Regions from separate parts of the Homo sapiens genome. Here region 1 is linked to region 2. Evidence: fine-mapped expression QTL. A gene starts in region 2. The other region holds a variant in brackets. All regions are shown on one strand. Distances are from middle to middle.

Region 1 (2,928 bases), 360 kb before region 2:
ATGTATATGGATTATGGCTATTTCCGTGCTTCTGGTAGAAATATAAGAACACAGTCTGGAAGGATTTACATTCTGCTCTTAAGAGTGGGTTGCTCTGGACAAGGAATGGAAAGAGGGGAAGGAAAGAATGAGACTGAAAAGAAGAATTTGTCAGAAATAACTGGTTATTTTATTTTAAAAACAAAAAGTAGAAATAAAGAGGCAAAATGTTAATATGTTTAAAATTCTTGGTGGGTAATGCATGAGTACTGTTATTTTTCTCAGTACTTTTCTGAGATTAAACATTTTAGGTAAAAAAAAATAAAGCTTTCTAAATAGCATCATCAGTTTTCATTAGAAAAAGGGGAAGAAATTCAAAAGAAACATATCAATAAGATGAATTTATATATAAGCAAATCTTCATGTTCATGTCTAGGGATGAGAGGAAATCTTATTTATAAGTGCAGAGCTATAGAGAGAGACTGCCTGAGTTTGAATCCTTGCTCTACCCTTACTAGCTATGAGATCTTAGGAAAGTTGTTTAACCTCTCTGTGCCTGATTTTCCTCATATATAATAGGAATAATAACAGTAACTATCACAGAGGGTTGTTTTGAGGATTAAAATTTGATAATATTGCAGAAGTATCTGAACAGTGCCTATCACACCAAGCTCAGGGACATACAGAAGTGATCACCATGTTTTGTTAGACTGTCTTAGACTTTCTATACAAGGGTATTTCTCCTTTTAGTGAAACTATCTTTAATACACTGATATGATAATTAATTATACGAAGGGAAAATTGCACGGACTCTCATCTGCAGCAGCAAGTCCTGGTTTATAACGTAAAAATCTAATGAATTGCAGCAGCAAAGTTTCCATTCATTCATTTAACTAATAAGTTAAAACCTCATTATAATGTCATTTACTGTGCAGTGCAATTCAGCAGAGGGATCTCTCTTGGGCCTCAGCTAGAAGGATTTAATTACTGGATTACCAAGAGGACTTTCAGTCAAGTGGCATCACCGATGAGGCAAACTTGAAGGACAGAGTTATCAAGAGAGTCCAGCATCCTTTTTTAGAAGTATAAATGTTCAAGGGTTGATGTGGAAAACATGCAAGGCTTTCAAAAGCTTTCAGTTTAGACTACTCAGGATAGAATGAAAAGGTGGGAGAAAGTGAATAAGCATGCAACTCACATATTTATAATCCCAGAATGTCACAGGTAGAGTATCTACAGAATATAGATAGCAGTGACATATGGAAATACAAAAGGCAGAAGAGAAACCTGAGTGCTCCATAACTAAAGAAATCACTTTTGAGT[C/G]ATTTCTGTTTTGCCCATTGCAAAGATAAAGCTAAAGACACTGATTCCCACTTATATTTTGTATATTTTTAAGCACCAATGTTTCAGCACATTTTCTGCTCATCTGTTAAGCTGCAGGCCTTATGACCACAGGAATTCCCTCATAGAAGGGAAATAAAAGAGATGAATTCGGGGGTCTCTATAGTCTTGGCATGCTACAGAACCCATTACTACAAACTGGAAAGCCCACTCTGAGGTCCAAGACAGTGGACTTCAGGCCATCAACAATAAGCCAAATCTCTCCAAGAAGGAGAGATTACTCTGGTGAGCCAGCTCACTCCTACAGCTCTAGCAGTGCCAGTTTCTGTTTTGAAAGCAAAATGCCTATGTTTGGTATGTAGATTATGACTGTGTCAGAGTCCAAATCAGCATGCATCATAAAGGCACCAACATTCACAGAGGGAAATGCATTTTACTACTGTAAGCAATTTAGTTCCCCTGTTTAAATGGATTTTATACAAAATGTGGATAGAATGGAATAAAATAAATGCACTCATCACGAATCTCTTTTTCCCTCAAAGTACTAAGCAAAGATTTTAGTTATCTGGCACATCTATTACACACACACACACACACACACACACACACACACACCACCATATGTCTTAACTGTCAAAGAACAAGCTTACTCATCTATGCCTAAGCATAACTGAATAGTTGAGTGATTGATATTCAGCTTCATAAGTGGAACTTTTTTTTACCTTTTGCTAGATACTCAATTATGATATAAAAGGTCCATAATGAAAATTTTTGAAACAGTTCTATAAAACTCAGCTTATAATATCATGAAATGTAATGCTACACGGCACGTTGCAAAATACAGCACCTAAGATCTTGCATGAAAAGAAGAAGTGAAAAATGAGTTTTCCCCAGACTATGGTCTATAGGTATATATTACACACAGAGACACACACACAAAATATGGTTAAAGTTCATCTCTCAAAGAATATTCATACTGCTCCTTTAATATAAGGAGAAGTTAAACTTTAAACTTCTAGATTTAAAATTTAAACTTTAAACTTCTAGATTTAAACTTTAAATTTCTAGATTTAAACTTTAAACTTCTAGATTTAAACTTTAAACTTTAAACTTCTAGATTTAAACTTTAAACTTCTAGATTTAAACTTTAAACTTTAAACTTCTAGATTTAAAAAGTTTAAACTTTAAACTTCTAGATTTAAAAAGTTTAAACTTTAAACTTCTAGATTTAAAAAGTTTAAACTTTAAACTTCTGGATTTAAAAAGTTTAAACTTTAAACTTCTAGATTTAAAAAGTTTAAACTTTAAACTTCTAGATTTAAAAAGTTTAAACTTTAAACTTCTAGATTTAAAAAGTTTAAACTTTAAACTTCTAGATTTAAAGTTCTGTGATAAAAGTTGATGCTTGAGGAAAAGAAATTAGTTTTCACATAGGTATTAAACTACATATTACTGGAATATATGCTTAAGAATATTTCTTCACAAATAGAGTGCAAGTTGTGAGACTGACGGCCTTCCTTGTAATAAAATAAGATTCTATTTCTGTAAAATTAATATTATCTCCCTGACTATCATGCTATTTCCTTCTCTGTCCCAAATAACAATGAA
Region 2 (2,928 bases):
AAAATACAAGTATAATTCTGTTAATTAGGCATAGAAATTTATAATCTCCACGTCTTACAATTGTCCAGTGTTTATTCATGTACCTAAATTAAACTAAAATAATTTCAATCCAGGCAAACCACCCTGAAAGATTTTTTTCTTAAGATGTTTATATCTAAACCCATGCTCAGATCAGCAAAAACATTTAGAAAGGAAAATATTCTATTAAATTTTTTAAAAACATTTTATTGGGGGATCGTTAAATATAAATAATCCATTTTAAATAATATAAACACGTAGCAGAAGTACATAAAACATACTTTCATTTTCTAAAACATAGAGAACAGTAACTTCTTCGCCTCCAAAAGAACAGACCATTTAATACCATTTAAAAAAATCTTTTGGCATTCCTATTGCCCTTCCCATAACTAAATGAATCAGTGACACGTGTATATATATACATATATTGGAGATGGAGTTTCGTTCTTGTTGCCCAGGCTGGAGTGCAATGGTGCAATCTTGGCTCACTGCAACCTCTGCCTCCCGGGTTCAAGTGATTCTCCTGCCTCAGCCTCCCAAACAGCTGGGATTACGGGCGCCCAGCTAATTTTTTCTACATGTTGGTCAGGCTGGTCTCGAACTCCTGACCTCAGGTGATCCTCCCACCTCGGCCTCCCAAAGTGCCGGAATTAGAGGCGTGAGCCACCACACCCAGCCCTGATGTATATATTTGAATCTGCTGTTTATTCATATGTTGAATAAACATTCACAGTTGGGATTACTGGCATACATCTTCCACAATTATAACATTATTTTAGCTAGTGAATAATAAAACTAATTTGATTTTGGTTAACTTCTTTTCAATACAGATGGTTTAAAAATAAGACAAAGCCTGTCTTTTTCTATTGTGATCTTAAAAATATCTTTCTAACATGCTTTTTAAAAAAAATACATAAGTATGCTACCACTGCCTTGTAGTAAACTTTAGAAAATGTTGAGATTCCAAAGGGCTGCCTACAAACCAAATGGCATCCTAGCTTTGGCAGGCTGATGCTTCATTTTGGCTGCTCTCGCCCCCTCTAGCGTTTGCAAAGCTCATCTGTCTGATTATCCAGTTACCTCACTGAACAAGATCTTGGCTAAGTCCTGCCCATCTATGACATCACCCCCTTCTTCAGCCACTGCGAGGTGAAGCTTTAAACTTCAGACTTGGAGGTGGGCTGTGTGCAGTAAACTGGAATGCTCTCCCTCGCTCACTCCTCAGTGTAGGAGTGATCTGAAGCAGGACAAGCTCAGCCTGCAGCTGCCGTGGGCTTTGTGTGGACTGGACGCAGAGCTTGGGAGACGGGGGAGGGCTATTACTCCAATTCACTGTCAATGGAATTACAGCTATAGCGGCAGTGTATATAGGATTGCTTTTTCTCGTCTTCCTGGTAAGTGTTTTCCATGTTTTTTCTTATGATTGTCCCAGAAAGTTTGCTTGGTTTTACTCTCTAGAAAGAAACGACTTGATACTATGAGAAATCCAAATAGGAACGTTTGCTCTGTCACCACAACAAGCAATATATGTGCGTGCAAGCCAGCAATGAAAAATTTCACTATCATGGCTGAATGTAAGAAGTTTCTTAGAACCTTCTTTCATTTATAAAAGATAGTAAGTGGCTATTTTCTGTCTTGAGTAATTGCTATGTGAAAAGAGCCTTATGGAAAACAGCAAGTTGGAAAGTTCAATGTTAAATATTAAAGAATACAAGGAGATTCTTCACAGATAGGAAAGCAACTTGGTGTGTACTGTACGTGTGGGATGATCACCAATTGCTGTTTTTACAACTGTGAAAGAAAATCAATAATCCCTCAGCCCATGAGTACGCAGTACATGAAAAGCATACATCTTGCTCACAGCTAGCCGAGCTACTCCTGGAGACTTATGTGCCTCTGTAAAGGATTAACAGCTACACCTAGATTTTAAAGCTTGCACTGCTATCGTGCCTGAGCTGCTTCAAGCATTTCAGGCTTGCAAATCTCAACTAGTAAATTGAACTCAGAGGAGGGGGAGACACTCTTCCAAACCATATTCCCTCTTCAATAGAACACCAAAATCCATTGCTTAGGCAAGTGAAGTATGTGACTAGCATAGTAAATGGCTAAGTCTACTCAGAAAAACTAACAAAGCTCACCCTGGAAGCTATGCCTGATGTATGCAGTGAGTTTGGGGTAGCAGGAAAGAAAAATAAATGAGTAGAGCCCTTATCAAGTGGGTTTTGCAGAGGATCCATTCTTTGCAACTTATAATAGGAAAATCTTATATTGGAAGAAATGCATTTATACTACAAAGCTTGAAAAAGTAGTTAAATGTATCTTCTCAAAAAATTTTGTTCACTGAATTAGGTCTGAAACAAAATGGTTGCATATAGGTAAAGAGTGCAACAGGCCCATCCATGTCTTCTCAACATCTGGGGGGTTTGTTTTTATTATTTTATTTAGAATTTAAAAGAAAAAAAATTGATTTTTTTTTCAATTTTTAGTCCAAAATCTCTAATGGTTTTAATAATAAGGCTATTTTAAACATTCTTAATAAATCTGTCTATTAATAAATCTGTCTAAAATGCTCATCTATGTTATTTTATTATCCAGAAACAACATAAATAAAGCCACTAGAAAAGTCCTTCAGCTGTAGCAATGCCTTTCATTTATCTCTGACTGCATAAAAATATCCTGACCAGCCTAAACATAAAGAATAAATTTGCTTATATTCAGGGAGAATCACTTATACCTGACCCAAAGTGACAGATGACTAATATTCATCTCTTCCGAAATGAGTAAAGAAAAATTAATCCTTTAAAAGTGCCACAATCAATAATATCAACATTACCAACTACTACAAATATTAATGATAATATGCCAGGTTTTACCATGGGAAAATTAAATCAGAGATATGCCCCTTAGTTT

Alleles and levels. Alleles are on the strand shown, and positions count from the first base shown. SD is a standard deviation of normalised expression in the study named.
For the expression in liver of the gene that starts at base 1,204 in region 2, allele G in region 1 goes with a lower level than allele C (moderate effect, 0.50 SD a copy in GTEx).

The links. PIP is the estimated chance that this variant, and not a neighbour inherited with it, causes the effect. A credible set is the group of variants that fine-mapping cannot tell apart.
Region 1: its variant is the best candidate, but not a certain one, in a credible set for the expression of FLRT3 in liver (GTEx, PIP 0.52).

Annotation. Positions count from the first base shown.
Region 1 is chr20:14,699,530-14,702,457 of GRCh38, reverse strand. All of the region lies in intron 5 of MACROD2 (mono-ADP ribosylhydrolase 2), which reads right to left. Among named protein-coding and RNA genes, the nearest start is that of MACROD2-IT1, 150 kb to the right of the region's middle. The variant C/G (reference allele first, on the strand shown) is at 1,303.
Region 2 is chr20:14,335,888-14,338,815 of GRCh38, reverse strand. It overlaps FLRT3 (fibronectin leucine rich transmembrane protein 3), which reads left to right and starts at 1,204. Exons shown (of 3, transcript NM_198391.3): 1 at 1,204-1,412. The region is part of intron 3 of MACROD2 (mono-ADP ribosylhydrolase 2); the gene reads right to left.